Linked DNA regions of Homo sapiens: regions 1, 3 and 4 are each linked to region 2. Evidence: fine-mapped expression QTL. A gene starts in region 2. Each other region holds a variant in brackets. All regions are shown on one strand. Distances are between the middles of the regions.

Region 1 (8,106 bases), 23 kb after region 2:
CATGTCCAGTAAGTTTGTTCTCCAAATGGGCCCAAAGTACACATTTTCTAAGGAGACTTAGAAACAAGTACCGGAGACTTGTCAGTGTTATATTAAAATTTTCAAAATATTTGAATATTCCACTGAATTTTAGGCCAAAAAAAAAAAAATGAGTCCCCAGGCTCCATCCACTTCCTACATTGCTCGTTTGATCATGAGCAAAGCCAGTGCTGGATTTCGTCACTGCTGCATCTACTGCGTTCAGGACGTGTTTTATAAGCACATATGCAGTGGCTTTTCTTAGAAGAGTTGCAACGGCTAATCATTATTCATCTGATTTCTCAATATCCTGCCAGAATAAGTCCCTTTTTAAGATAAATCTTGACTAATATAATTGTAAGGATTCCTCCCACGAGCTCTAGTGTAAGACAGAGGCCTGGAGTTTCCTGATGAACAAATCCTTGGGATAGGCTTAGGCTAACATCTTCCTCTTTTGTCTTTTTTGTTTTGTTCTTTTTGGTAGATTTCTTTCATTTCCTAATACAAGATTAATATTAATTCTGTTCCTCTTGTTTCCAAGCCCTGCTCTGTCATCTCTGGATCTCCAGTATTTGTTGAGATCCTGACTTTCTCAGGATGACTTTGCTGCAAATGCAAATGACAAGCACATAATGTGGTTTAGAGAGAATTAAAATTACTGAGTAGAAGAAAGGACTCTGTGTAGAATGCTATAGCCTCTTCAGGCATTTTGAACCGTCAAATTTTTATGCAAGAGGAGTCTTAGTACATCATTAAGCATGGTACATTGCTGGGTGTCAGGCCTGCATTACTTCTCATAAACTTTCAAAGTCCTTGCAGTCCCAGGGACTTACACACGTATGCTAGATATGTTTAAGTGTTTCTAGCTGCAGTTATACCTCCTCAAACTAATTACATATCAACCTTCTGGTCTTCTCCCAGAATCTCTGTCAAGCTGTATCAGGATTTAAAGTGTCTGTCATTCCTTTGGTTGGTGTCCGGCTTTTGCTCCCCCTCCTTTTCCTATCAGGAGAGTATGTTTCAGAATGATGGACCTGAATGAAGCTTAGAAATACATTTAAAGTAAGATGGATGTCCCATTTCCAAGTGGAAAAAAAAACCGGCAGGGTATCTAAAGTATCTGCCTTACTTTCTATATATTTTTTTCTTAATAGTGTCCTGGTTTTAGAATGAGCTCAGGAATATGAATTAGACATCCACATCGCTGACATTGTTCCTCCAGCAAATCATAAAAAAAATGAGAGGGCGGTCGAATAACTGTTATAGCAAAGCCACCCTTCTTATAAAAGCGTGAGAGGGCCTATAGACCAGAAAGATCCTTTATTGTACTCCTCTGCCAAATGAAAATATAAGTTTTAGCTTAATCATTTCAGCCTAGGTTCAGTTCTTCAATTACAGGACACTTCTGTGAAATCAGGCTGAGGAAGAACCTTATGATCTATATTATAAATGCAGTTTGGATCTCCATGTTAAAAATCCTATATGTCACTTCACTGCCACCACAGGTCATTATTTCCAGCACTGCAACCAGTCTCGCCACTTTCACAGCCCAAAATTGCAGGCCAACAGGCCTTGTCAAAATTACAAAATTACCAAGAACAAAGTCTGAGATTTTGTCTTAAATATTGGTGGAGTAAGGGAGTTGCTTACACATTTTTCATTAGTTCAAAGTTTCAAAGAACTGGCTTCTAAAACTATGAAAAAAAGAGATGAAGGCAGGTTATTCATTACATTCCGGATGAATAGCGTCTCCCAGGAAGGAATTTGGAGGCCCCTTTCTGAAGGCATTTGTTTCTGGCGTTCTGGGGAATGCCTCAATGTGGGGAGGCTAGCCCTCTGCAAGTTTTGTGTTCAGCGTCACCCAGAGCCTTTTTCCCTCCTGCTTTCAGACCTGGTTGTTGGTTTTTTTTGTTTGTTTGTTTGTTTTGAGACAGAGTTTTGCCCTTATTGCCCAGGCTGGGGTGCAATGGTGTGATCTCAGCTTACTGCAACCACTACCTCCAGGGTTCAAGTGATTCTCCTGACTCAGCCTCCCAAGTATCTGGGACTACAGGCGCCCGCCACCACACCCGGCTAATTTTTTTGTATTTTTAGTAGAGACGGGGTTTCACCATGTTGCCCAGGCTGGTCTTGAACTCCTAACCTCAGGTGATCCACCTGCCTCGATCTCCGAAAATGCTGGGATTACAGGCTTCAGCCACCACGCCCAGCCCAGATCTGGTCTTTATTCACAGTGTCAGCCGGTGCCCTGGACATGTCTTTGTTGTGTGTGTGACGCACCGTCTCACCTGAGTTTTCTGCCACTGGATCATGTGGGTCTGGTTGGCAGACCAGTATCCCAGCCCCCAAGCCACTCAGTGCCGTTGATGGGGGCTTTAGAAATGCAAATAAGTGTTTATTCAACCTTATGCAGCTCTCAAGCCAGGCTCCAGGGCCAGATTCCTAAACCAAACAACCTGCAACAGCTGGAGGTGCCCTCCTTCACAGTCTGTTGGCCTCGTCGGGGATTACTGGGCACTGCAGTGTTGGCAGTAATTTTGGCACTGGAATGGCGCACAGCAGTTTATTCCGTCAATGGTAAATTGTTACAGCCACTGCCTTGGAAACCACGTTGAGCATGTGTGTGTTCAGTGAAGTGTCTGTCTGTAGGACTTAGCTACCCGGCTTACATCTTATATATTTGTTTATTGTCTGTCTCCCTCACTAGATTATAAGCTCTCTGAAGGCAGAGACTGTTTTATTCACCACTGTATCCTCTAGTGCCTGGCACATGGTGGGTGTTCAGTAAACATTCTTTGATTAAATAAATGATGAAACTAAATTGCAAATTGTCAGTGACAAATTGTGTCTAAAGTGACAATCATATTAATCGTTGCCCAAAAATTCTAGAAAGGGGTACCTGAGCTTGTCATATCCTGAGACTTGTCCAGGAAGTTCTTTTGGAATGAGAGATCTCTTCAACTAGACATGCCCACTGCTGGGGAGGGGGTGCTCTGGGGACACACCAGTTGGCCAGTTCTGGGAGGAGGGCTAGTCTGGCAGGCACCGGGCAAGCAGTGCAGGCATGGCTGATCTAAAGCCCAAGACTGCAGAGAGTGGTTGTGAGGGGCCCTGGCGCAAGCAGCATTGAGGTAGGTCCAGCACCCGGAAGTCTGTCAACAGGCAGACTGCCCTCTTCTTCCGAAGACTCCAGCTGAGGATGCCCACCCAGGCGAAACAGCCAGCCCATTCACAGCAGGCTCTCCCACCTAAGGTGGGTGAAGGAGCTAAGCCATGATTTCAGAGCCCCAGCCAATTTGGGGCAGAAAAACCAACGCGATGATTCCAAGTGAAGTGGCATCGTTCATCTGGGATAATACCCGAGGTTTGTTGTCTTCTGCCAAGGAAATCAAGGATGTGGACACACAAGGAGTGAGATTAAGAGCAGAGCTTTAATAAGCGAAAGAAAGAGAAAGGCTATCTCCTGCAGAGAGAGGGCTCCCAAGCAGGTGTCTGGTCTGCCACAAAATACTTAGGGTTGTGTAGATGAGCTTGAGGAGGTGGTGTCTGATTTACATAGGGCACAAAAGATTGGTCGGACCAGGTGTGCCATTTGCATAAGATGCAAAAAACTGGTTAGGACTAGGTGTGCCATTTGCACAGCATGTGAAAATCTGGCCGCCCCCCACTTTAATCTTTTATTATGCAGATGGATTCTCCACCTGGCGGATGCCATGTTGCCTGTTCCTTTACTGTACACACGGTGACAAAGAAAAGGGAAGATGGAGCCTCCAGGTTGAACATACCTGGCCCTCAGGTAGCCCTTTTCTATTGGCGCAGCTTCCGGCATTCATCTGTGCAAGCTTCCAGCTTGCTTATCTACATCTACAGCTCGAATTTTCAGACTGCTCTTTGTTAGAAAAGAAATGATTTGGGGGCTGCTTTTTTGTTAAAAGCAAAATTCTGCTAAGGGCTCTTTTATACTCACTATGTGCCTAAATAATTTCTTTCCATCTCCTGTATCACGAGGATTGTGCCCTTGAGTAGTGAGAGGACATAGTGGTGAGGAGCACAGATCCGGGGTTCAGACAGCCCTTGCTGTTCTCCAGGCAAATGGTCTTGAGCAGGTCAGTTAGTAGTTCATCTATCATAGTGTTGCTTTAAATGAAAGATTAAATGAGATAGTATACATAAAGCTTGTAGGACAATGTCTGGCAAATAATAAGAGCATAATAAATGGTTGCTATTGTCTAAATTAATTTTCTGTTAAATTTAAATGGCCAGAAACAGGATACACAGGAGAGGTAAAATGTTGGAAAAAATATATATATAACAAATGCCCAGGCTAATAGTACACTTTCTGCATCATAGAAGGCCTGAGCTTGTACACTGCTTTCTTTAACACTGTTTTCATTTTGTGTTATCAAAGGAAAGCCTAATTGTCTATAATCAAATGAAAAAGAATCTCCCTTCTCCTTAGGAAAACACAAACTAATTTGAAAGCCTTGTTAATGGTGTGCTAGCAGCTCCCATCCTCCCACCAGCCTTGGGGCAGTCTGTGCCACTGCTCTGTTTGGTTCTGGTCTGTGTTTTACCATAATTCAA[C/T]AGGTGCTCGCTAGGTCCTTTGAGAAGACATGTAATAGATATGATAAAGGCAGAGCACATCCCACAGTCATGTCGTCTGTGTTTCTCCAGGGAGGCATAGAGACTTTTCGTGGCAATTAATTATTCACATTTTCTGTCCTTCCCCTCAAATGCTTGGTTTCCTATCCAGCTCCACAGAGGCATGTTTCTCGTGGGGTGGGGGGGGGTGTAACTCTAACACCTGATGACAGCTTGAAGCTGCGTTCTGTGTTCTTTGCTTGTGTTTTCAGGTCATGTGCAGCGGGTACGTGCTAGTGATGGCCAGAGCATGCTAATGCCACTGCTCATTCTCCTTAGCTCTTCTGGGGCAGGGTCTTAGCCACTTACATGTCCCTGGTTCAGGCAGTGCAGAGGGGGCTCTGGGGGTCGGGTCTTCGTCATCCTGGCTCGCCTGCTCTTGGCTGCCTCCCAAACTGCCAGGCGAGCTGGTACTTGGTGGAATGCCTTTCAGCTCACCCCCCTGCTCTGAGGCCGGGCATTTCGCCCTTCTGCAGAGCTGTAAACATTCACTCATCCATGCAGACTTCAGCATGGTCTTTGTTACTGCTCTCAGGGAAACCTTTGTGTAACTGATAGAGATGGCACAGGGCTGAGCGCCCTGACAGCTCCACTGGAGAGTCTCAGAAGCCACCTTCTCCCGGGCCTCTTCACACCCAAGCCTCTCACGCCATGCTATAGGCTTTCTTGGGTGACTGTTATGCATTCCTTTCACTTGTGCACCCACCTGTGGTGCTGGCCTGTTTGAGTTGCCCTCGAGGGCACTGCTGAGATGTGAAGACCTGGGCATGTGCCAACAGGGAGGGCAGTTTCTAGCTTATTCTTCCTCCAAGACCTGGGGCCAGAGGAAAGAAATGTAAGTGGGTGTCCAAGAAATGAAGCTGTTGGCTGGTGGCTGGGAATGAAGCCAGTCAGAATGAGGTGGGAGAGCCGTGCAGAGGGGCCAGGCGGGAGCTGCCGTGGCCACACATGGATGGAGAATGGCAGCTGGCCACTCTGCTGTGAAAGGGATACAGTGGAGAGGCGAGCACACTTCTCTGCAGAGCCTGGGCTGATGGTGCACACGGAACTCGGATACTGGAGCTAGTGCTCATACTCTGTGTGACCTTGGCAGGCTACTTCACCTCCTGTGCCTCAATTTCCTGGTTTCTAAAATGGGGACAATCATAGCACCTCCCCTTTCTATGGTGGTTGTAAGGATTAAATGAGTTCATACATGTAGAACATGGAGAAAGCACCCATGTTAGCTAACATGTCACCCTGTGTACCTGGCCACATGCACACCTGGGGGTGGGATTAGGACCTTGAAGGGACTTCCTGGTGGCCCAGGCAGCTTCTTTTCCCAGACTTTCCTTTACTTCGCATGGTGTTTTTCCCCCCTCATTAAAATCATCTGTCATTTTTTTCAGGTAAAATTCTTGACCCCTCGTTCAAAGCCTTTCTGTCCTTTTCCATTTACATGGAGCATTCACTGATGCTTAGCAAAGTCGCATGTCTCCACTGTTGGGAGTTCAAGGCACCAGAGAAAAGTGAAATCCATTTAGATGATGTGGTATTTTCTCCTACTTTTACTGGAGTTACTCACTGGCAGAAAATTTCATCGCAGCTTTACTACTTTTGCGTCAACTGTACTTCTGCCGATCGTGTCATGAATGTTCAACCAAACCGAAAGAAGCCAGGCAGGCAGAAAGGGCAAGCAAAGAAAAGGGCCAGAATTATCTCTGAATTCTGATTGTGTTCCTAGCCATCATGATGAATTTTCATGATTCAGGTCTATATGGGGGCACACGCTTATCAGATAACTGCATACAAATGAGAATATGATCTGAAAGTAACTGGCCCATCCTTAAATTCAGCCCTTCACCTAAGCAACACAAAGATCCAGTTGCCAAAGGACATCTCTCCTGGAAGTCATTTGGGCATCTCAAGCCAAGTGGTCAAGGTGGAACTTTCTGTCTTTTCCCACAAATCTGCCCTTCTTCCTCTATTTCCTATTTCAGTTAAACATCACATCAGATCACTTGTTCAAGCTGGAAACATCAGGGTATATACTCCTCTCCAACTTTTCCTACACCCCACCCACCAGGCCTGTGGGCTTCCTGGCCTGCCATTTGCATCTTTATAGCCTGTGAATCCATGCCTCTTCTATTTACCCACTTGACTGACTGTCCTGGATCTGTAAGTACTGCTGGGTAACAGCCACCTCCAGTCTCAGTTTCAGGCTTGAAACAACCATCATTATTATTTCCCATTTGTCTTGGATCAGCTGATCTAGACCATGCTCACCTGAGTGGCTCTTGCCCTGCGTCTTTGGGTGTGAAGTTTGGCTGATCTAGGGCAGGCTCAGCTAGAGTGGGTCTGTTCCATGTGTCTCATCCCCTTACTGGGACCGGTGGGCTCCCCCAAGTATGTTCTTATGGAAATGTTGGGAGCACAGGGAGGCAAGCCAAAACACATGCCACTGCTGTCTCTTTCTCCTGCCCAAAGCTAGGCATATAGTCTCATCCTAAATCAAAGGGTGGGGAAATACGCCACCCATTTAGTGGGAGGAGCTACACAGTCACATGGCAGAAAGTAAGGATACATAATAGGATAAGGAACTGAAGCCACTAACATAATCTCCTACTCTGCCAAGTCCTTGTCATCTCCTGTCTGGACTCTTCACTAGTCTTCTAACTCCTTATTTTGCCTATAGCCAACTTTCCCCCAACTTGATCCTGATACCCCTTCATAAAACCTTCCTTTGCCCCTTATCAACTACTGAATTGAGCTGAGGCCCCATACAGCTTGGTTCTAATCCATTTTTCCAGCTGCATCTGTTGCCATGTCCCAGAATTCCCCACGGCCCCCTTCCAAATGTGCTTGTTTTTTGCACAGTTCTATACCTTCGTAAACACTTCCTAATCTCCTCAGCATTTGAGGGCATCATGAGCAAGAGGATGTGTTCTGCCTTTACCCTTCAAGACCCAGTTCATTTGGTGCCTCCTCCAGGAAGCCTTCTGCAGAGCCCTCCTTCTTTTGTCATATGTAGTAAGTTGGAATTGCTCTATGCTCATATTTAACTCATACAAATTTGAGAATACATGCTCAGCCAGCAGGAAGGAAAAAGAGGGAAGACAATTTAAAGGATTCCACTTGCCATTCTACTCCATGAATGTGGAAAGCTGAAACTTGACTCCGCTCTTACCTTAGTCATCCTTAACTTCCAGAAGCCTCTCAGGTTCCCAAAAGCCTCTTGTAGAGTGAAGGGCAGGGTTTGATGAGTAAGGGTTCAGTGTTTAAAGAAACAGACTATTCTCTTATACATGGCCCTGCAGCAAAATGGTTATTTTATGTGGTGTTCAACTAAAGAAACATCTATCTGGCCATCTTGTCTTGTTACAAGTTAGTACTTTATTGGAAATTTAGGAGACTTTCAGTGTTAATCGTGTCTATAGATAACCTTTGCTTCACAGTGACTTTAGAATC
Region 2 (8,106 bases):
ACAGAAGAAAGAAAGAAAGAAAGAAAGAAAGAAAGAAAGAAAGAAAGAAAGAAAGAAAGAAAGAAAGTGATTCAGTTACAAAGAGGCCATTAGAGTTGGTCTTCATCTAATCTGACTGTTTAATTTACAAGAAAAGGAAATATGGACACACAAAGAGACCCAAGGATGCACACAGATAGAAGAAAGATACAGCAAGAAGGCAGCCGTCTGCAAGCCAAGGAGAGGCCTCCAAAGAAACCTATCCTGCTGACACCATGATCTTCTACCTCCAGCCTCCAGAACTGTGACGAAATCAACTTCTATTGTTGAAGCCATGCTGTCTGTGGTACTTTGTAATGGCAGGCCAAGCTGACTATCAGGCCGTTGGAGCTGGGGAGGACCAGGTGCCTGAAGGAAAGTGTCAGGATGAAAGTGGACGGAAGGCCAAAGCTTTCCAAGCCTAGGTTATTCGTAGAACCATAAATGGGTGACTTAGCCACAGTTCCCAGGAGGCGTGTCTATTCACGGGGGACTGGAGGGCAGTGCCCTGAGTCTAAGGTTCCCTTTGATTCTTAAATTTCCACAGCACATTTCCGGAAGCCAGCCTTTCACATTCCCATCTCATTTTACGCCCACCCACCCACCAGTTGTTGGGGGTCACAGTGGGTGGGTGGTCTGATGTCTGACTTGGACTCCAGATCTCGTCCGGGTATAAACTGCAGGCTGAGAATTCTTGGGAAGCCTCCAAGGCAGGACCACTATCTGTGCTCTTCCTTATCAAAGTGGAGTCATTTATATTTTAATGAGATTATTTCCCAACACAACAGTTTATCTTTCATTTCATTTATCCCTTTGCCATCTGGTCCCCTTATGTTTGCATGTAGGGCTAGTGGCTTTCTTTGTCTAAGTAGATTTGTCAATAGTTTATAAATTTTCTTCTCATGATCATAATATTTATTTTTCACATTAGACAGACTCTTCTGGAGTCTTGGAAGAAAGAGATTTCTTTTTTTTTAATTTTAATGTCATTCTTTAACCTGTAATTTTTGTTTCTGGGAAATGTGTTTTCAAAAAGTAATTAATTAATTAAAATGAATGAGCAAAAGTTTCCAGACCAATATATTTTCTGGTTCTATTTGCTACTGGATAACCCTAACAAATATTTTACTTAAGGGACTAAATCAAGCTCGCCTAATAGCAAATGGTACAGATGCAATGAAAGTGGCCTAGCTTCCCTCTAAACTGAAATCCAAATCTGGGCAAATTCTATGTTCTGGAGATATTTATTTTTATCTGTTTTCAGTCTCTTGCTGTAAAGTTCTTATCTTAAAGCTACTTAGCTCCTCTTTTTTTGGCCCCCTCCCAATTACTCTTGGCCTTCTTAATTACTAATCCATCTCTTTCATCAGCAAAGTTGATGGACTCTATTTACCATCCGATTATCTTAAGTTTTTTCCTCCAAGACAGGGCTTTGGCATTCCAGTCCTATTCTAATGGCTGATGGCACTACATACCTCTCAGGTGCCTGGTGGGAAGGCCAGCCATGCCCATTGGCCTTGCCTTCTCTTGACCCAAAAAGCTCCATTAGGCCAGAAAATAGCTCTGGCCTATTCCTCAACATATCCCCAGCACCAGCCCCTGCCTAGTACACACTGAGTGTTCAATAAATAAATGAATGAACTGCCTTGTTTTCTAACACACCAACACATGCAATAATATAAACAGAGACTGAAACATGCTTTATAGGTGAAATACAACAAAAGATTGATGTTCAGACCTTTCTGAGAAAAAGTGATTAAAAAATCAGCAATATCTTTTATTCATATGCTTCGTAGTTTCTAAGGGGCTTTGAATCTCCTGTGAGATTTATATCAACAACCCCATTTTAAGGACAAAGGAAGCCTCACAAGAATTTTGTGAGATTTAAATAAATCATGTATGTAAAATCCTTACCACAAAGACTGACATGTAGTAAGAACTTTGGAAACAGTTGATGGTCTATCCTTTTTCTCTATCGAGAGTTTAAAGAACTAGTACATGATGGATTCCGATCCAGAAGTCAGGTTTCATGTTTCCTAGCCTGTTACACTTCCTGCCATACCTCAGTATTCCCCCAACACTGTTCTCAGGCTCTGATAGGAATATCTTTAGGGCAGCAGTCAAGACACCCTAAGCAGACCAGTGACACTTTTCTGTCCCCATCTTAAAGGGGTGGAGGAGAGCATCGTACCCCCATGATTAAAGAGACTGACATTAAACAGCTGGACTATGGAGTGTGGGAACCATGTAAGTTTAGGGGCTAGATACCCTGCAGTGATCACTTGAAGGTTCTTGTGCTGGTTACCTGCCAGCAACTCTTATACCCCGCCCTCCCAAAAAATGGGCCAGGTGCAATGCCTCATGCCTATAGTCCCAGCACTTTGAGAGGCCGAGGCAGGAGGATCACTTGAGGCCAGGAGTTCGAGACCAGCCTAGGCAACATATTTTTCTCTACAAAAAAATTAAAACTCAGCTGGGCATGGTGGCACGCCTGTAGTCCCAGCTACTCAGGAGGCTGGGAGGATCACTTGAATCAGGGAGGTGGAGGCTGTAGTGAGCTGTGATTGTGCCACTGTACTCTAGCCTGGGCAACAGAGTAAGACCCTGTCTCAAACAAACAAGCAAAAAATGAAGTGAGGCTTTTAAAACCTGGGAACTGAAGCAGAAAGCCATGCATCACTAGAATACAGTGATACCGTTCAAGCTTCTCTTCCATATAATAAATGCATCACTGAGTTGCCATTAGACTGCTATGCCAATGATGAATGATAACACTGTGTCCCCTGTGGGCGAGGGGAACCTGAATCCATGCATCATTTTGAGATGTGGCTTGAGGTTTTGGTCTGGCATGCCCTTTCTCTGGATATTTGAGAAAGGCAGAAATCATTTAAATAGCATCTCATTTTCCAAAGCCCATCTTCTAAAAGTCATGCTGATTTCACCCTTTCTTCCCTGGCCTTTTCCTTAGTACCATCTTCCTGAGGATACAACTGGCCCACTCATCAGCCTTCTAGGTAAGTGGCACAGGCTCCAGCTACCTTAAGTGGACTACCTGGCTTCCCTGCTCACTGATAGGGTGTCCTGGGACCAGGCACTCGAACTCGGTAGGGTTTAGTTTCCTTGACGGTAAAATAGAAAAGTAAGCCTGTTTCACAGCACTTCCCTGAGGATCAAATGAGGCACAGTTTGAATTGTTCCCACACAGAGTAAATAAAGGCAGGTTCCCTCCTGGCTGCAAGATAAAAAATGGGCAGGGGAATCTCCCTTGAAGAACTGGCACGCTCCTTTCTTTCAGCTAATGCCCACCAATATGTCCATTGCTGTTTGGGGTGCAAGAAATTTTAGGCTCAGTAAGGACAATTCCTCCCAATGGTTTGGATAGGGCTGTCAGAACTAAATTCAAGTTGTTCGAAGTCTCCTTCCGCCCGCCCTGCCAACTTGCCTCCCTCTTCACCCTCCTAATAGGAGGTGAGCCCCTCCAATAGCGATCATTAACTCACCCTAAGGTTATCCCCTTGCTGCAACAACCCGTGAATTGCAGGTTCATTCAATGCTCTTTAAATTATTTTTAAAGGCTTTTTTTTTTTTAAGTAGCAAAAGAATGCATGACACCTATTGTAAACTGGCAAGTTGAGGGGGTGGGATGCCGCTCAGACGTGTACTGAGAAAGGTGATAATGAATTTGGCGTCAGCAATTCTTCAGAAACTATAAGAAAACACCCAGGTGTTCGAATTGGTCCCAAAAGGGAAACAAATCCTTCCCAGCTTTCACGATGCGCTGAGGTTGGTTTTCTCAGTGCTCCTCCCAGATCAGGAGGTGGGGAACCTCGTGGCAAGCCCTGGGGCTCGGGATTCCCGGACTGTGGGCCTGGGGGAGAGAGGCGGCTCTCGTGTGCACACTTACCCCGCCCCCACAACACACACGCGGTCACGCACCACAGACGGGCACACGCGCTCAGCACAGCCACAGTCGCGTGCAACCAGGAGTGCACACCGCACCCACATCACACCGCATGCACAGACGCACGGGTGTGAGACCACACACCTCGGCCACTCACGCTCACACGCCCCCCACGCGCTCGCACACGCGCTCGCACGCGCACTCCCCGCGCACCGCCGCGCGCACACGCGGGTCCCGCCGGACGGCGAGGGGCGGGGCGGGCGCGGGCGCAGGCGCGGGTGCCCAGCCGGGCGCGGTCGGGAGAGGGCGCGGCGCGGGGTTCGCGGCTGGCGCTTGAGTTGTTTGCCGGCTCCCGGGCCGCCAGACGCTCGGAGGGAGCCCGGCCGGCTCGGACTGGGCGGCCGGGAGGGAGGGCGCCCCGGGTCACGACGGCGCCCGCAAGCCGAGCGCGGCCGGGACGTGCACCATGGACCCAAAGGCGGGCGGCGGCGGCGAGGAGGACGACTGCGTGGACTCGGGCGCCGAGACCGGAGGGTGAGCCGCGCCGGGCCGGGCCGCGGGCGGGGGGCGCTCTCCGAGTTGCGCGGCGGCTCCTCCCCGGACGGGGACCCTCCTGATCCGTGCGACGGGACCGGGGCGCGGGGCTTCTCCTCCTGCCGGATCCCCCGCTCTCTCCTGGGCGGGCCGCGCTGCCCTGGGCAGGGCGGGCACCACCCGGGGGGAGGAAAGTGGAAGGACTCAAGGTTCAGTGCAAGCCCACCCATCCTGTGAGGCGATGCAGAGCGCCAGGCGGATGCAAAGACCCCTTGTCTGCATCGCTAGAGACAGGAGATGCTCTTGCACTTGTTTCCTCCTTCCTCGGGGACTTTCCTCCTGTAGCTCCGGAGCCCCCTGGAGTCCGGCCCTGGAGATCGGGAGAGGAAGAAAAGCAGGGTGGGACACCCGCACCTAAAAGTCTTTCCGAAGTCGGCTAGGAGGATGGCATTTCTCGTTATATGGCTTCATCGTGGGACTTTAATCTGTGCTGCCGAGTCCCCCTCCCCGACTCCTCCAGTCCCGCCGAACTTCCTCACCTCTAAGTGCACCTGTCCCAGCTGGACCCTTTGGCCTGTTGTACCGGCGGGATGGAGATGGTGTTGGGATTAGGATCTAGCCCTGCCTTTTTTTTTTTTTAATATTCTCTTCGCTTCAGCGGACTCAAACAATGGGCTCAAACCTTTGGAGACTAATTAGTTAGTCTCCAAACACTGTTTTCCTGAGCGGAAGAAAAGACAAAATGCCTTTTAGGAGATGAATGTCGTTATAAAGGCTTCCAGGCAGCCTCTGTCTCTAAAGGACTTTCCTGTGCAGAGTCAGCACCACATCCAGGCCGCGGGTACTGACCCAGGAGGAAAGGGTGTTTTTTCCTATCTGGAGTAATCCTGGGGGAGGGCGGGAGCTGCCTAGACTACAGAAAGCCTCATTCCTGGAAGGTCGGAGAGGTTTTAGACTAATCTCAGGATTTGGCAACCCTGTGAGGGCAGGTAGAGAATCCAGGCCCACGATCGACCCAGAGTTCTAACCCAACCCCGGCAAAGCTCCCCACAGGGCCCCTCCTGCCCCACCACTCCTAGCCCAAATGCGGGACTTTACTCCCTAGGGCATTCACCCAGCAATGGGCTTTCTCTGTTATCCAAACTTATTCATAGCTCTCTACAGCACCCAATTATAATCTGGTGGAGTAACCTGATGCTAAATGCCAAACTTCCTTTCTTCTTCCCACTCTTTGTGTAAGTGGCATTTATCAACTTTAACAAGATTATTGGCTTTTTTTTTCTGCCATTAGTTAGCTGGACCATGAATAGAAGAAACAAAGCAAAATTAACCAGCTTATTTGTAACTGCGTTAAATAAAGCATTCACTAGTCTATTCATTTTCAATTTGCAGAACTCACCTAAAACTGATATTTTTTTCAAGGGCTCTGTCTTAGAGAAGGGAGAGGAAGTCCTGGACCCAGGGGGTGACATCGCCCCAGGATCTGGACATCAGCATGACAGCGGCCAGGCCTCCTGGGAGGGGCTCCCCACTCCTGCTGACACCAGAGCTTCTGTTCTCAGCCTCTGTCACTAAAATGTGTAGTTGTAACAGGACAGAATTGTTTAAAGAATTCTTGGCCAGGTGCGGTAGCTCGCGCCTATAATCCCAGCACTTTGGGTGGCCGAGGTGGGCGGATCACCTGAGGTCGGGAGTTTGAGACCAGCCTGGCCAACATGGAGAAACCTCATCCCTACTAAAAAATATACAGAATTAGCCAGGTGTGGTGGCGCATGCCTGTAATCCCAGCTACTCGGGAGGCTGAGGCAGGAGAATCGCTTGAACCCGGGAGGCGGAGGTTGCCATGAGCTGAGATCACGCCATTGCACTCCAGCATGGGCAACAAGAGCAAAACTCCATCTCCAAAAAAAAAGGAATTCTTACTGTATCACTAGTATCCTTAAGCTAAAGGTAAAATAGCATGCATTTCAATGTATGCTAATTAGTTTTGTGTTTGCCATATATTCACAGAGCCCTTGAATTTCAGTTATCAAAAAGCTGTTCATCGTTTCCCTGCTTTTCCAGAGCTTGCCCCCACCCCTTACCCTATCCAGCTTTCACAGAGATTATGTAGAAAGCACATAGAAGACAACAAGTGTTTGCTATCGTTAGTATTTTTAAAATGCAAATCTGATCATGTCTCTCCCTTTCAAACTTTTATGGCTCTGTTATCTACAAATGCAAGGAATTTAACGTGGCCTATATGCCCTGACTCCTGTTATGGAGTCCCTTCTTCCCTCCCTGGCCTTGTTTCTCAGCAGGTCCTTCTTTGCGCCTTGTATTTTTCTGTTTCCTCGCCTTTGTCAAGCTGCCCTCTTTGCCAGCTCTGCCCTTCCCACCTGACTTGCCTGTCTGCCAGGTGAAACTCTACTCTTCTTTCAGGACTCAGCTCAAGTGACACATCTGCTAAGGCAGTGATCCTTAATTTGGGGTCCATGAATTCCTTCAAGTTGTATGCAAAATGATGTGCTTTGTGAATTTGTATGAGAAGAGAACTTTTTTTTTTTATCAGATTCTCAAAGTAGCTGGTGATCTATTCCAAACCAAGTTTGGGCAAGATATGAGACATTTCATTTTCAACACACTGTGTCTGAGGTGTTGCAAGACATCCAAGTAAAGATGATGAATCAGCAGTTGGGTATATCTGTCTGGAACTCAGAAGGGAGGTCTTCATGATGACATTGCATTTGGGTACTATTTACCTAAAAATGGCAATGGAAGCTCTGGGAGAGACTAAATCAACTGAAGGTAATAGCAAGCACTTTCTTAGCATTTAGTATGTGCCACCTACTGTTCTAAGCCTTTATGTATTTCATGGACTCCTCGAATCCTTCAACAACTCTGTGCAGCAGGTGCTTTTTAAGACCAGCCTTGAGAAACTATATTTAAACGCCCAGTCAATGAGAATGAGCTGATAAAGGAGCCTGAGAAAGAGTAGACTTGGAGTCAAAGAAAGAAGAATATGAATCATTGAAGCCAAGGGAGGTTTGAGTTTTTGAGAAAGGAAGGAGAGATCAACTATGCTACTGAGAAACTAATGAAGATGAGGAACGCTAAATGTCTTTTTTAAATGGAGATGATGAAGTGAAGGAAGAGTGGTATTTCACAGCGGGGTGGTGGAGGCAGGAGCCAGATTAGAGTGGCTCTAGAAGGCAGTAGAAGGTGAAGAAAAGGAGACAGGTGGATTCCTTTGTCTGGAAAAAGGAGAGGCAAAAAGAGGCAGTAGCTAAAGGGGAGAGTGGAGTGAAGAAAGATTTCTTAAATATAGGTGCTAATTGAGCAATCAGTGTGATAGAAAGGATTCTATAGAAGGGGGAAGGAGAAGGAGGAGAAAAGATGATAATCTGTAATGTTGCTTGCTTGCTTTCTTTTTTTTTTTTTTTTTTTTTTTTTTTTTTTTTTTAACAGACAGGTCTCTCTGTCACCCAGGCTGGAGTGCATTGGTGGAATCATGGCTCACTGCAACCTCAAATTCCAAGGCTCAAGTAATCCTCCCACCTCAGCCTCCTAAGTAGCTGGGATTACAGGCCCGCACCACCGACACCATGCCCAGCTAATTTTTTTATTTTTATAAACACAAGGTCCTGCTATGTTGCTCAGAAACTGTCTTAAAC
Region 3 (8,106 bases), 68 kb before region 2:
AGAATTTTCCGTAGATATAAAACCAGTTTTAAAGAAGCTTCCCTTTTGAAGTGCCATAACAGAATTGCACAAGAATTATGGACAAAATTATGTAGACAAAAACACATGATCAGCTTTTACTGCTGACATTTTCATTTACTGTGGTGTCGTTTGTGGGACCCCCACATTTCTCCAGAATTGGGGATATTTTTTAACAGGCAGCCCTTGGTCACTTGGTCACAGTGAAAACAAACATCTTTGAGCACTTGGTCATTGTATGTCACAATTTTCAAATTTACAGCCACCAGCGTATCCTACTGGGGCGACTGGGGGAATCAATACTGGGCTTTATTCTTATTATATACTTGGAACAGGTTCAATGTAGTCCCTTAGGAAGTAATATTAGAACTTCAATCACACGGGAAGGGAGGCTTTAAGAAAGTTGCTTCTGTTAACACACTCCTCCGTCCTGGTCACAACCAAAACATATATATTCAGCCCAAATTTGGCATAAATTCTGCGTAAATTATATATACTTTCAGCAGTTCTACAAACATTTTTCAAGAAGACTGGCTGTATAACAGAACCTCTTTCTTTCCAGAAAGCAGCTTTGGCCATCCTAAAAAATGCAGTGGACTAATCCAGATGAGCCCATCAATTTGCCTAGGGGTCACTGCTTGTGCCACCAGAAAGATACTCGCAGAGAGACCCTCAACAACTGGGGCTATGTTGTTCCATCCCAGAATGAAAACTAAAACTAGAGCTGCATTAGCACTTGCTGAGGTAAACTGAATTCCTTGGTTCTATGCAGATCTTGCCTGTGTATGGATGACTAGAATCAAAAGGCTACCAATGTCTTCTGAGATGCCAGAAGTCAGAAATAATCCCAGCTAAATGAAAAATACCAGAAATGCTACCAAAAAAATTGGCCACAGCAAGTACAGAGCTGTAGAATCTTCAACTCTTCAGAACCCCCCTGGCCTGAGCTGTGTGCATAAGGCCAATCACAGGCACAAATTCACTCTATAGACACTAGTCAAACATTGTAGTAGACAGAATAACAGCCCCTAAAGACGTCCACACATGAATCCCTGCAACCTGTGAATATGTCACACCACATGGTAATGTTACATATGCGAATATGTTACACCACATGGTAAAGGGAATTAAGGCTGCTAATCAGGTTAAGATGGGGGGATTTTCCAGATTATCTTTCTTAAAAATGGAAGAGGGTGGCAGGAGAGGGCAGAAAAATGAAATGTGAGAGAGACTCAGCACACCATTGCTGACTTTCAAGACAGAGGAAGGGGCCAGAAGCCAAGAAATGCAGGTAGCCCCAAAAGCTGGAAAAGGAAAAAAAAAAGAAAAAACAAACAAACAAACAAACAAAAACTCAGATTCTTCCCTAGAGCCTCTAGAAGGAACTGAACCCTGCGGACACCTTGATTTTTAGCCCAGTGAGACCTGTGTTGGACATCTAACCTAGAGAACTTCATATTGCTTTAAGCCACTAAGTTGGTGATGATTTGTTCCAGCAGTAATAGGAAATCAATATAAGCACCTTCTATGACCAGGCACTGACCCTGCCAATGCAAATATGCCCGGCATTCCAGAGACACATAGTCCAGTAGGGAGAGAAAATTCTGCACATGCAGGTAAAGCAACATGCTATGCACTAAACATGCATGTACCAAGCCCTGAGGGAGCACTGAGCTGATGGTGCTCCCCTTTGCCTGGGGGAGCCAAGGAAGGCTTCCTGGAGCAGAGGAGACATTTCAGCTTAACCTAGAAGCCTGATAGAAGGGGTCTGTACTATTCTGGACTTACATGGTCCCAGGGCCTTTTATTTAGACATGAATGCTGAAGAAGGAAGCAGTTTTTTATTGTCCAGGCTGGTCTAGACCCTTGATCCTCAAAGTATGGTCCAGGAGTCACGTGGGAGCTTGTTAGAAATGCAGAATCTCTGGCCCAGCCCAGCCCTACCAGGAGAGAATCTTCATTCTAACAAGATCCCAGGGGATTCATAGGTGCATGACAGTTTAAGAATCACTGCCCCAAATAACAATATTCTCATACTCACCACAGTGTGGAAAGAAAGAAACAGGTTCCAGAAATTGTTTACATATGTAACCCTGATAGCATGGAGGTCCCTCAGAACATTCCTACTGCTATGTGACCATGCTTAGAACGGTGCACTCCAGCTCTGTGTCGTTTCTCAGCATCTACATAGACATCACATACACCATCAGGCTGTACGTCTCCTGTGGAAACATTTAGCAGGCTTTATTTTATAAACACTTGGTTACAAACATCACCCAGTTCTTCCATTTATTTATTTTTTAAGAGATGGGGTCTCACTCTGTTGCCAGGGCTGAAGTGCAGTGGCACGAACCTGGCTCACTGCAGCCCTGACCTCCTGGGCTCTAGTGATCCTCTCAGCTCAGTTTCTCTGAATAGCTGGAACTACAGGTGCATGCCACCATACCTGGCTAATGTTTAAATATTTTTTAGAGATGGGGTTCTTGCTCTGTTGCCCAGGCTGGTGTCAAACTTCTGGTCTCAAATGATCCTCCTGCCTCAGCCTAACCCATTTCTTTTTTAGAAAACACAACTTCAGCTCTAGCATTCTGATAGTGCAAAGTTTTTCTCCTGCTTGATGACCTCAATCCCAAAATAATTTACTCTAACAGCTAAATCTTCAAATCACTGAGCCTCAATTTACTTCTACCATCAGTAAAAAGAGGTCAGGGTGGCTCTGGCAAACCTAAGCCCTAGTCCTGGGAAATCCACAGATAACCCTTTAAGGCTCACTGGCTTAGTGACTCAATCCCTCCAGCCTCTTTGCTATGCTCGAGCCACATGTCTGCTGGCTGTGGATCCCATACATGCAGAGCTGCGTCATGTTCGCGGGCACCCTGGGGACACCTGCTGCGGGGTTGATGTTTTGTTATGTTTCTGCAGCACAACCAGGGCTGGCTTCTTGGGGACTGTATACAGTGCACTTGCCCAGCCCCACACACAGAAGGGATTGAGGTTTAGTGCTCTGCAGTGGCAATCTTAAAACTCTTAATGATTGTATCTTTGAATTAATGTTTTGTAAGTCAAGTTATGTGCCAAAGACTTGGAGCCTCAGCTCCTGCCATTGCACCTGCCGCCTCCCTAGCAAGGGTTCTTCAACACCCCCTCCCCTGTCCTGCCAAGTGACCACTGCCCCTTTTTCCTGCTCCCTCCATAGGGTCCTGCTGAGCAACCACTGCCCCCTTTTCCTGCCCTCCTCAGAGTGTGGGAGCCAGGCATGCACCCCCTGCATGCCCAGGGCATCAAGATGAGGTCCTGGGCACCTATAAGTGTCTGCACTCACCCAATGCCTATGCTTGTGCCCAAGGGAGTGTGACACTCAATACCAAATAAAAAAACATGACAGAGAGAGAGAGAGAGACAGAGATAGAGACTGTGAGAGAGAAAGCTTTTCTCCTACTTTAAAAAAAATTGTAGTAAAAATTATGTAACATAAAATTACTCTCTTAACCATTTTAAGTGTACTGCTCAGTTGTGTTAAATACATTCACGTTGTTATCAACCCATTTTCTTGCTTTCTGTTTTTTTTCTTTTTTTTTTTTTTTTTTTTTTTTTTGGAGACAGGATCTCGCTTTGTCGCCCAGGCTGGAATGCAGTGATGCAATCTCTCAGCTCACTGCAACCTCCGTCTCCTGAGCTCAAGTGATTCTCCCACCTCAGCCTCCCAAATAGCTGGGACTACAGGTGCATTCCTAGCTAAGTTTTGTATGTTTAGTAGAGAAAGGATTTCGCCATGTTGTCCAGGCGGGTCTCAGACTCCTGGGCTCAAGCAATCTACCGCCTCGGCCTCCCAGAGTGCTGAGATTACAGGATTGAGCCACCATGCCTGACCCAACCCATCTTCAAAACTGTTTTCTTCTTGCAAAACTAAAATGTGATACCCATTACTCCCCATTTTCCCCTACCCCCAGCCCCTGACAACCACCATTCTACTTCCTATCTCTATGAATTTGACAACTCCGGTACGTCACACAAGTGAATCATACAGCTTTTGTGTTTTTGTGACTGGCTTATTTCACTCAGCATAATGTCCTTGGGGTTCTTCGTGAGTAGCATGTGTCAGAATTTCCTTCCTTTTTTAAGCTGAATAATATTCCATTGTGTGTCTATGTCACATTTTGTTTATCCATTCATCTGTAGATGGACATTTAAGTTCCACCTTTTGGCTATTGTAAGTAATGCTGCCATGAACACG[G/T]TATGCAACTATCTCTTTGAGTCCCTGCTTTCGATTCTGTTGGGTATGTTTGGAAGTGGAATTGCTGAGTCATAGGGACTCCTGCTTTTTGAACACACATTTTCATTTTGAACTGGGCTGTTTAAATTATACAATTATACAGCTGGCTCTGCACATGCCCAGTTAGGGTGCGTATGAATCACAGTGTCGGAGGACTGTTCTGCTTCAGCCAATGGAACTAAGGACTAAAGACTTTCCATGTTTGACCTGATAGTGTCACCACCAGAGTGGAGCAAGCGAGAAAAGTAAGAGACTGAGCAAGAGTGCTCACCCTCAAGTGTCCCCACCAGTCAGAAGCAGCATGTATTGACATTCATGGCTGTAGAACATTCTGGAACTGGTTTTCATTTATCAATGCATGCATTATTTCTTCCAATGCATATGTATTAAACCTCAGCTACGTGCCAGACCTCGTTGAAGACACTGAGGATAAAGCAGTAAACAATGCATGGAAGGGTCTTCCATGCAAGTCAGACAAGTAAACTAATTGCACATTCGACGGTTTCTTGTGAAAAGTTCTATAAAGGGGAAATGTTGGGCCCTGAGCCCAAGGGTAGAAAGCAGGCTGTGCATGAGTCACTGTCCTGCTTTTAAGGGGCCGGTAAGGTAGGACAGGAGTTTCCAAAGTGGTACGTGAGATGATCTTAGGTAGAACGTTTTATCTTTTCTTTTTAATAGGTACATATTCAGTTTAACGTATGTTTAGAAATATATATCTAATACCTCAAACCCTCAATTCTTAACTATCTCCTGGATGATGCTCAATTTAAAAAGGAGTTCATGTAAAATGAATAAATATAAGCTAAATATTAAAGCCTATTATGTTGTTATTAAAATAAATAAATAATGCAGGAGCTACATGAATAAGACCTAAACATTTAAAGATTGCAACTCAAAAAAACTACATTTTGGAAACTCCTTGTGGGTTTTAAAGATAACTTTTTTAATACAGACATATTTTTAAGAAGAGTATAACTAGGGCTAAGATACAAGTAAGTCCATGGGGAAAGGGAAGCAGCTGTGTTTGAGAGGAGCTCCTAACCCAATTTAGGGGATTCAAGAAAGGCTTCCAAGAAAATTGCTTCATGCAATGAATTTTGTTCCTTGAATTACTCAGTCCAGGTGTATTTGTGTGAACTCTTCAAGTATGAGCGCTGGAAACCCACTACAGCCAGTTTAAGCAGGAGGGGTAATTTGCAGATGAGGATGCTGGGTGATCCCACAGTGGCTCAGGCCTCAGAGTGACCCACCTCTCTCAATCTCTGCTCCTGGTCCCCACTCTTATCTGAGGCTCTGCTTTACCTCTCACACTCGCTGCACACTTCCTTTCTCAGTATATTTCCAAGTGGACAAGATGGAAAACGGCTACCGCATTCTTCTATTTATATCTCTTCCATTCAAAGACAATCTCAACTGATGTTACCATTTCTTACTTCCAAGTCTTGACTTCTGGGGAAGAGACTCTGGTCAGGCATCACAGGTGACCTCAGAGGCGGGGTCTTGTTCACACAAGGACAACTGTCACCACGTGGTCAGGGAGGGGAAAATTACCAGAATCCAGATGGGAATGGGGTTGGAGATCCAGGCAGAAAACCTGATGGCACAAGCTGGAAAAGTCCTCATTTCAACAGCTTCCAGACTCCCCTGTGCCTGACATCAGTGTAGGTAGGAACTGCCAACAAGCCTGGAACAACATTTTCTCTTAGGCCACCTTGAGGATACGGGTGGCAGGAGAGATCTGGAGTGACAGGGGACCTTGACCCCACCCCCGGCCTGTAACCCAGGGGTTCTCTTGGGGAAGAAGGAAAGCAGTCCCATGGGCCTGCCACGTGCCTAGGATTCGGGGCTATGTTAACCCATAGGAGGGAGGTAGGGAGCAAACAGTTTGGCTAGGCCTATATTTCTACTTTATATCCCAGAAAATAATGGGATTTGGCCCTTCCATTTGAAAGCCTGTGTCATTCAACAGAGTAATCGGTAACACATGTATAGCTCTTACTATGTGCCAAGTGCATACTGTGTTCTAAGTGTTTTACACAGATTAACTCAAATAACTCTGTGATACATAGCTGCCACTACGCCCTTTCCTGAAGATGAGAAAATTAAGGCACAGAGAGGTCAAGGAACTTACCCACATTTACACAGAAAGGAAATGAGGAGCTGGAACTCAAACCCAGGAAATCTGTCTTCAGAGCCTATGGTACTGATCAAAAGGCCACACAGACCAAGGTTAAAATCTTGCTTCACCCCTTACTTGTTATAAGGTCTCTTTAAACTATTGATTCAGTGATAAAATGGAACAAAAGACACCTACCATATAAGATTATTGTAAAGACTAGTGGAAAAAATCGGTATCTACAAAGCACTTAGAACTGAATAGGTACTTGATCAGGGTAGTTACTATTGTTAAGGAGAGATAAGGAATCTGAATATTGTTCAGCTCTCATGGGCATCTGGTGATGGGGTGTGTCCCCATTTTCCACACTGTAATTGTCTGCCTAGGCCAGCTCTCATTCAGGCCAGTTCACTCTGTTGCAAGGGAATAATCCACGCAATTGTTACCCAGTGCCATAGGTGGCTGAGTACAGCTTCTCGTATTACATATCTTCACATCCTGCTGAGCAACAGCACTAGTGGTGCTTTTTCTATAGTTATTTAAAATTTCAGTTCTCCTTAATTGAAGTAGAGCATACATAAAGGGCACAAATTGTAAATGCACAGCTCCAGTGTTATATGTGCAGATGTCCAGATCCAGGCCTAGAACACTTCCAGCACCCCAGAGGCTCCCTCTGCCCTTTCCCCATCAATTCCCACACTGGCCAGGAGCGGTGGCTGCCGCCTGTAATCCCAGCACTTTGGGAGGCCGAGGCGGACGGATCGTTTGAGGTCAGGAGTTCGAGACCAGCCTGGTCAACATGGTGAAACCCCATCCCTACTAAAAATACAAAAATTAGCTGAGCGCAGTGGTGTGCACGTGTAGTCCCAGCTACTCTGGCAGCTGAGGCAGAAGAATCACCTGAACCCAGGAGGTGGAGGTTGCAGTGAGCTGAGATTGTGCCACTGCACTCCAGCCTGGGCGACAGAGCGAGACTCCATCTCAAAAGATAAAATAAAATAAAATAAAATAAAATGAAATAAAATTCCCACACCAAAGAGGTGGCCAATGGACTGACTTCTATTGCCTTAGGTTCATTTTGCCTGCTCGTGAACTTTGTAGACATGGCTGGATTTGTACTGCCAGTGTTTTTGTAGGCACTTCTTGCCTTCTTCTGCCATGCAGGTGAGTGAGCTATTTGTGGCCAGCGAGCCTTTGTTGAAACCCCCTTTGTTCCTTACTGCACCCCTACACACGCTTGTACAGGAGCAGACCATGCCAGCATGAAGAGGCAACCAACTGGTGTTTTTTTAATGTTAGATAAATAAAGCAGGGTCAACAGAAGCCTCGTGTATTGTGAAGTAATAAATATTCACTAAAATTCAGAACTTGACAATTAAATATTGACACCTGTGTTCTGGCTCTCACAAAAGATTTAAAATCTCTCAGAGGATTTGTAAGTGGCAAGAGCAAGGAAAGAGGAAAGAGGAAGGCGTGCAGCCTTAAAGTGAGTTTAGGACAAGCTCAAGTCACCACCCTTAGTGACAGTACCAAAAATAACGTTTTTAAAAAACAAACAAACAACAACAAAAAACCAGGCTTTGCCACATTATTCCCAGGCCTTACACAGTGGACTTTGTGTACATTCTTGTATTCATTCCTTCAATGACTAGATATTATTCCCATTTTGCAGATGGGAAAATTGAAACTGAAACCAGTT
Region 4 (8,106 bases), 55 kb after region 2:
TGCACAGAGTTCTATAGACAGCACTGCTCTAAGAAATGACACTTGGATAAGGGTAAAACCTCTTTTTTTCCCCCATTATAAGCTTTGTAGAACTAATGTGTACTTTGTTTTTAAAACTCTGTTTACATATCAGTTTATAAAAATAAAAATTTAATTCAAAAAATGATAGGGAGGCATTCCCGCAGAACTTAGACCCCCAGGTTTATGCAAGGGCATTATATTTTCATAATACAAAAGTTTAGCAGCAACTCTCACCTGGGGGCACTTGGCATCTCTCCTCCACCAGGGGACATTTGGCAATGTCCTGAGGCATTTTTGGTTGTCACAACGGGGAGGTAGCCAGGGTGCTATTGGTATCTAGTGGATAGAGGTCAGGGATGCGGTTAAACATCCTCACAGGACAGCTCTCCCAACAAGGAGCTATCTAGCCGAAAATGTCAATTGTGCTGAGCTAGAGAAAACTGAGATTAAACTGAATCTCCAAGATTCCAGTCAGGCTCGCAGATAGATATGCATGCATGTACTTTTTCTTTTAATGAGACAGGGGCTTGCTATGTTGCCCAGGCCGGTCTCAAACTCCTGAGCTTAAGCGATCCTTCCACCTCAGCCTCCTGAGTAGCTGGGACTACAGGCGTGTAACATTGCGTTGGCTTAATTTTTTTTTAACTTGAATCCTTCAGGCTAGAATGCAGTAATTAGCTAAAGTTCAGTCCCACAAGCTAGCATTATACCCTCAGTGCAATAGAAAATTACATTGGAGAATTGAAGAAATTATCTGGATAATTCAAAAACAAAATACTCTATCTCTTGTTGTTCAAATAAAGTAAGAATGAGATTTTTAACCTAAGTTATTGTTAATTGTTTCTGTCAGCTCCTCCTGGTCATTGAACTATGTCACGGGATATTTCTCTTTGGAAATTTCTTAAAATCAATGATACTTAATGAAACTCTGATGATCCTTTGTTAATATAAAAATCAGTTCTGTCTACTCCTGTGTTTTACAGCCAATGGGCAGGGTAATTCACAAATTACACCAAAAATAAATATTCGGGGAAAGATGCAGAACTTATACAAAGAGAAAGCTTGCACCTGGGCATGATATTCTTTCAAGTTTTACAGATTCTATCATTAGATTTGTTGGCGCTAGCTCCGGGTCCTCAGCTGTCACTTTGATTTTCTCTGTTGTTCCTCCTTAAGTGAATAGCTTTTTAATATACATCAGATCAATATCCATGTTGTTTCCTAGAACTTCTAGGTGCCCAGCCCTTTTCTGTTTATTAATAGTATCTCCTAGGATCCTTGCCACATTTTCACAAGAGTCACTACTGATACAGGTTGACTATCCCTTCTCTGAAATGCTTGGGATCAGAAGTGATTAAGATTTCAGATTTTTTTGGATTTTGGAATATTTGCATTATACTTATCACTTGAGCATTGGAAATCCACAATCCAAAATGCTTCAGTGAGCATTCCTTTGAGCATCATGTCAGCACTCAAAAGGTTTCAGATTTTGAAGCATTTTGGATTTCAGATTTGGGATTAGGAATACTCAACCTGTATTAAACAAAGCTGGTCCCTGAGGCAACTACTCAGATATTTTTTTATTTGAAAAGTTGCTCTTTATCATTAGATGTTGCTACTGCTTTTCCCAAAAATATCAGAGTCCTCATAACTTTTTTCTGTTAAAATCAAATAATATTTATTGGTATTTATGATTTATGATATATAGGCATATATCATAACTTACACACATATAAGTACCTTAAAATTACCTTAAGTTATTTTAGAAGATATGTATTTGTATCTCACATGTATTTTTGTATTTATTCATTCAGGAATATATTGAGTGCTTGCTATGTACAAAACTGAACATTTGTTTAAACACATAATTGCAGGATCAGATGTCAAGCAACCCAATTTCTAAAAGCCTCACAGAACTAAGTGAAGATTTAACAATTAACCCAGTTCCTCTAAATATATCAATATCTCCTATTTGTTGGAGTAATTTGTAAGCTCAAGTACAACTGAGAATGATAGGGACCTAAAGAATCGTGGCTTAATCAAGAGTGGCTTATTTTCTGTCCTCCCTGTGGTCATCCACAGTACTCAGGAATCCTGGTTCACAATGGCTACTGGATGCAGTAGCAAAAAGTTTTTAAAATAGAGCAAGGGGCCAGGCATGATGGCTCATGCCTGAAATCCCAGTGCTTTGGGAGGCCAAGGCAGGAGGATCACCTGAGGCCAGGAATTCAAGACCAGTCTGGGAAACATAGCCAGACCCTGTATATACAAAAAAAAAAAAAAAAAAATTGGCTGAGCATAGTATCACATGCCTTTAGCTCTAGCTACTCAGGCAGCTGCAGCAGGAGGATCACATGAGCCCAGGAGTTTGAGGCTGCAATAAGCTATAATCGTGCCACTGCACGCCAGCCTGGGTAACAGAAGGAGGCCCTGTCTCTAAAGAAATAAAGAAATAAACCAGAGTACAGTAAGTACCAGCCTTAAAGAAAAAAAGATAAATGACTTTAAAAAGAACTTCTGTTCATCAAAAGATACCAATAAGAGAACAAAAAGGTAAGCCACAAACTGGCTGATGATATTTTTTGCAATGCATATATCTAAGAAAGGTGTTAAATCCAGAGTATGCATAAAAAGCAGGCATGTCTCTAAAAGCAATGCCTAAATAGCCCATAAACATCTCATAAGATGCTCAATATCATCACTCATCAGGGAAATGCAAATTAACAACATGATGAAATGCCATTACCCACCAGAATGGCTAAAATTAAAAAGAATTACAATGCCAAATGCTGGTGAGGACGTGGAGCAACTGGAATACTTATAAATTCCTGGTAGAATTATGTATCGACGCAACCAATTTGGAAACTGACAGTATCTACTAAAGCCGCAAACATGCTCATGCTGTGGCCCAGCATTTCCACTCCTGGGAATATACCCAAGAGAAATGAGTGCATGTTGTTCACCAAATGAGGGGAAGTGGCCAAATGAGGCTTCACAGCAGCACCTTGAATTTTGTCTCCGAAGATGGCAGGTATTCTCTAAGTGCACAGACACTGGGAGCACCATGTAAAGTCATGGAGATACAAACGAGCATGAGGTGTTTGGGAGCATGGTAGTTGTAAACTGCTGGCGCACATGAGTTAGGATTCTAGAAAGACACAAGGCTCAAGGGGTAGGCCGGGTCTTGTAGAGCTTGCCAAGGAGTGAGTTTTGCCAAGGAGCTTGTTCAGGTTTGACTTTCAGAGAGATCACTCAAGAGGTATGCGGGGTGAAGCTAGGGAGGCTAAGTAACTCTTGGCAGGAAGCCACAGGGGGTGCTAATTATCACTTTGCTGCCATTTTACCAATTTGGGGGAATAAGTACTTTTACCCTGAATTATACTACCTGCCATTCTATGCAGAGAATGGAATTGGTATGTTGCTATAACTGATGATTTTCCAGAAAGCCTTACACTTCCATAATAGCGACAGGAAGAGAAGGTAGACAGATGACAATCCAGCAAGCATTTGCTCAACCGCCATCCTGTCTAGCTCAGCATCTCTTTGACAACTTTCAAACTTTCTACCAAAAACATCACTGATTTTACAAAACGTGTACGGGCTTTGTCCATTCTTAGGGTGAACTTTGCCCTTTCCATCCAAATCCTCTTCCTGTACTGACCATTCCAGAAAGACAACACAGGCTTTGCCCATGGCCAGCATCCTTAGTGAGTGTGTGAAAACCACCCAAAGGAAAGGGAAAGGAAAAGCAAAACATGGTATTTTTCTTTAGAGCAAGACTCTGATTTCTCAATGTGAACCCGTTGCCCAATTTTCTTGAGACAGCCCCAAATTTGTATTAGTCCCTGTGTTAAAATGGCCATCACGGGCTCATTACACAGCAGACATTGTCACACTGCTCATGTTTCTGCCAAGGAAAACACAAGAGGAAATGATCTTACTGGGAAAGAGGAGGTGTGAGGCTGAGGGTAAAGTCCCTGACCATGAACAAATCATGAGACTCTGCCAGGGCTCCTGGGGGAGGGGCAGAATCACCTTTACTAGCGATTTAAGAAGAAAAGATTCTTACCAAAAAGATAGCTGCACTCGTATGTTTATCACAGCACTGTCCACAGTAGCAAAGATATGGAATCAACCTAAGTGTCCATCAAGTGGATGACTGGAAAAAAAAATGCGGTATATATAGCATGGAATACTCCTTAACTATAAAAAGGAATGAAATCACATCTTTTACAGCCACATGGTTAGAATTGGAGGTCATTATCTTAAATGAAATAACTCAGAAACAGAAAGTCAAATACCACATGTTCTCATTTAGAAGTGAGACCTAAACAATGGGTACACATGGACATGCAGAGTGGAATAAGAGACACTGGAGCCTCCACAGGGTGGGAGGGTGGGAGGGTGACCAGGGGTGAGGGCTGAAAATTACCTATTGGGTGCGCTGTTCACTATTTGGGTGATGGGTACACTAAAAGCCCAGACCTCATCACTATGCAGTATCTGCACATAAGAAATCTGCACTTGTACTCCCTAAATCTATAAAAAGTAAAAAATTAAAGAGAAAGAATTGGCCGGGCATGGTGGCTCACGCCTGTAATCCCAGCACTTTGGGAGGCCGAGGCGGGTGGACCACGAGGTCAGAAGATTGAGACCATCCTGGCTAACATGGTGAAACCTTGTCTCTACTAAAAATACAAAAAATTAGC[C/T]GGGTGTGGTGGCACGTGCCTGTGGTCCCAGCTACTCAGGAGGCTGAGGCAGAAGAATCACTTGAACCCAGCAGGCAGAGGATGCAGTGGGCTGAGATCGCGCCACTGCACTCCATCCTGGCGACAGAGCGAGACTCTGTCTCAAAAAAAGAGAGAAAGGATTCTATCCATGTGCCAGGGTATGAGCCTCTTGACACCCAGATCCTTGAAAAAGATGCTTTGCCTCAGTGGTCCGCCGCAGACCCCTTCGCTTCCCCAGTTGCAAACTGTACTCAAAGGTGCAGGGAAAACTTTTGGATCAGTTACTGAATTCCAATTTTTTGGTGACTTTAGGGACATAGCCAAATTTCCCGGGCTGGTTGCCTTAAGCACATTAATTTATGTGATGCTATTCTGTTCCTTAGATAAAGTTCCTTAAATAGAAAGAAGGGAGCTTCTGGATTCCAGGGAGGCAGCTAGCCTGCACTGCTTCAAAGAGAAAGAAAGGAACGAGTACATCGCTGCTGTCACTTGGAGCAGCTCAGGAGGGCAGCCTCCAAGAGCTGAAAGCCAGGGGGAGGCTTCCATGCGAGGAGGATTCAGGTTCCTGTTTCACTCTAAAAAGGTCCACTGAGGAGGAGTCTCTGGAAACATCTAAAGTAACTCCCTCCCAGCCTCTAGTGTTTCTGGTCAGCAGACAAGCACACAAGGGAGGCCAGAGATGGAACCACCACCAGGGGAACAGCACATAAAGGAGCTCCAACCTTCACAGGTGCGGGTTGTCTTTAAATCCAACAAGACCCCACTTTTAGAAACTGACCCCTCTGCCACTGGACAGAGCCAGAGAATACCACCAGATCCGCCCATATGCAAGCCCTGCAGTCACATCAGCTCCAGGCCTCAGGAGCGATGTGGAGGCTCCTCAAGCACCTGCCTCCTGCTGCCACCCAGGATTTCCTGCCATTATTCACAATGCCATATCAGCCTCAAATTCCGCCCACCCAGCAGGCAGCTCCACTGTGCACGTGGGCACCCTCCAGTGAAAAAGACCGGGTACCATCTCTCTTCAAAGCAGCAGAATGTAGGGTTTGTCTGGATTCCTACCTTCGTCATGTGGTAAAAATAAGAGAATACAGGTAGATTTCTGTTAAACAAGCACAGTCGTGAAAATCTCTGCAAAACTACACAGTGTTCATCCTCCATCAGTTGTGCTTGATTTTAAGCCAAATTGAACAGTGCCCTATTCCCTGACACTGGGAACATTTAGACGTCCCCTGGCATTCCTTGCATGGGAACCTTGACCTTCTGCTCCTCATAAAGCAACCACAAAGGCTTCCTTTTTCAGGCAGATTCGGACTGCAAAATTTTTCACCAAGTGCATGTTCTCAAATAAGACTTTGAAGACAGAAGTTACAAGGTGATGCATACTTATCAAGAAAGAAAATGACATTAGGGCACCCAAAGGAATTGGCCTTTGGAAAAAATAAGATAGACATTTGAATTAATAAACATTGTCCCCCTCCCCCGGAAACAACCTCTGTACCCAAGGACTTCTTTCTCTAATAGCCTCATTTTATTTTCTCTTGACTTATTTTCTCTTTTATTCAGCCAATTCAAATGATTAAGAAAATTGGTTTGTTTCCCCAGCAGCCACCCAGCTGTGACACCTCTTAGGCACATCTGAGCCTTTTGGGGCTGCTCCTTACCCCATCCCAAAGGGGTGACTCTCCATTCCTGCTGGATGCCGAGAGCCCTTGTAGTAAACCCCAGTCAGAACCCTTTTCTTATTGCAGGGATTTGTAAATCAGGTACTATTAATATATACTAAGTCAAGCCAGACCGACTGCCCCCAAACCCATTATTTAATTGAAACCTTGGATGCATAGTAAGGTTGGCCTTGGGTTCTGGCCTGTATGCTTGGACACAGACCAGAGAGAGAATCTGAGAGAAGCAGACCCTGGTGCAAATGCGCATTGGAAGAGAGGTCTCCAGTTCTGCACAACAGAAACGGGTTACTGGTGAGCTGCAGTGAGGGCCAGGGAGGGCTGCTGGACCAGGAGGATAGGCTGGGATATGACAGGGCAAAGCTGCTCATCCAACCCCTGCAGGATCCGCAGGATCAGTCAGCAGGCGGCAGCTCCCTTTCCTGTACACAGTTCCTGAAAGGTAACGTATATAGAGGAATCAGTAGTTACTAGCAACAAGTAGATAAATGCTAACCCCGATAGCCCCTCACTCATGGAGGATTTACTGTCTGGAACCATGGACCACCCCACCCTAAGACTGTGTCCTGGCTATCATGCATATACTAGAATCACACCCCATGTGGATCTGGTCTGAAATTGTCTCTGCATAGCCCATCCTGATCACTTCTGTCCTCTCATCAGTAACATTTACAAACAGTGTCTATCAGGTGAGCACACTGTGATTCTTTGGTTGGAAGGAAAGAAACCCTGCAAGCATTCTTTTTGCATTTTGTGATAATTCTTATCTCCGTTATCCTGCTCAGCCAGGCCCATGTTCTTTTTGCCAGTTTGTTGAGCGCAATGGGCATGTGTGCTTTAAAAAGTATTCTGTATTGTGATAAGGAGCTGAATCTCCTCCTAGCCTCGGAGATGGCTCCTCAGACTGAAAACTCTTTCTGGTGCTCCTCAAAGCTCTGCTACCTCTGTCTTTGCTCTAGAGATTGCAGAACTGGTAATGCTGGTAATGCTTTATTGCCATGACATTGCCAGGAGTTTCCAATGATTGGTAACTGTGTTTCCTGATGCATTTAACAATTCCCATCCTGCACTAATGTGATCTGCCTCTCCCCCCACAGGCACAAAGGGTGCATAAGAAGTTTCCTAAACCTGGCAGAGTACATCATGCCTCCGAGAAGAAACGTCATTCCACTCCTTTGCCGAGCACTGCTGTACCAAGCCATACACCTGGCAGCAGCCAGCAGTCCCCGCTCAACAGTCCTCACCCGGGGCCCATCCGGACAGGCCTGCCTCCTGGGCACCAGCAGGAATTTGCCGGACGAGCCAACAGCACCCCCAACCCTCCCTGGTCTTTCCAGAGAAGCAAGTCCTTGTTTTGTTTGCCCACGGGAGGCCCCTCCCTGGCCTCCTCAGCTGAACCACAGTGGTTTTCAAACACAGGTGCCCCAGGGCACAGGGCATCAGAGTGGAGGCATGGCCACCTCCTCTCCATCGATGACCTAGAGGGGGCCCAGGAGACAGACGTGGACACAGGCCTGCGGCTGTCCTCATCGGACCTGTCTGTGGTCTCTGCATATTCTGCACCCAGTAGGTTCTGCAGCACAGTGGAGACACCCCTCCCCTCCGAAAGATGCAGCAGCCACTGGGCAGCTCACAAGGATTCCAGGGAGGGACCACTGCCCACTGTCAGCAGG

Direction of the effects. Positions count from the first base shown, and alleles are read on the strand shown. Sizes are in standard deviations (SD) of each study's normalised expression. Not every link is listed here.
In carriers of allele C in region 1, the expression in cerebellar hemisphere of the gene that starts at base 4,282 in region 2 tends to be lower than with T alone (small effect, 0.35 SD a copy in GTEx).

Evidence for each region. PIP is the estimated chance that this variant, and not a neighbour inherited with it, causes the effect.
Region 1: its variant is the best candidate, but not a certain one, in a credible set for the expression of FAM124A in cerebellar hemisphere (GTEx, PIP 0.83).
Region 3: its variant is the best candidate, but not a certain one, in a credible set for the expression of FAM124A in monocytes (Quach 2016, PIP 0.77).
Region 4: its variant is the best candidate, but not a certain one, in a credible set for the expression of FAM124A in tibial nerve (GTEx, PIP 0.68).

Annotation. Positions count from the first base shown.
Region 1 is chr13:51,241,606-51,249,711 of GRCh38, forward strand. All of the region lies in intron 2 of FAM124A (family with sequence similarity 124 member A), which reads left to right. Among named protein-coding and RNA genes, the nearest start is that of FAM124A, 23 kb to the left of the region's middle. RefSeq lists enhancers at 1,547-2,136, 2,137-2,725. The variant C/T (reference allele first, on the strand shown) is at 4,603.
Region 2 is chr13:51,218,117-51,226,222 of GRCh38, forward strand. It overlaps FAM124A (family with sequence similarity 124 member A), which reads left to right and starts at 4,282. Exons shown (of 4, transcript NM_001242312.2): 1 at 4,282-4,453. The coding sequence starts at 4,386. RefSeq lists an enhancer at 3,430-4,220 and silencers at 4,001-4,050, 4,171-4,230.
Region 3 is chr13:51,150,044-51,158,149 of GRCh38, forward strand. It overlaps a transcript of C13orf42 not described here. Among named protein-coding and RNA genes, the nearest start is that of C13orf42, 43 kb to the left of the region's middle. The variant G/T (reference allele first, on the strand shown) is at 4,253.
Region 4 is chr13:51,272,920-51,281,025 of GRCh38, forward strand. FAM124A (family with sequence similarity 124 member A) reads left to right here. Exons shown (of 4, transcript NM_001242312.2): 4 at 7,531-8,106. Among named protein-coding and RNA genes, the nearest start is that of FAM124A, 55 kb to the left of the region's middle. RefSeq lists enhancers at 7,181-7,837, 7,838-8,106. The variant C/T (reference allele first, on the strand shown) is at 4,731.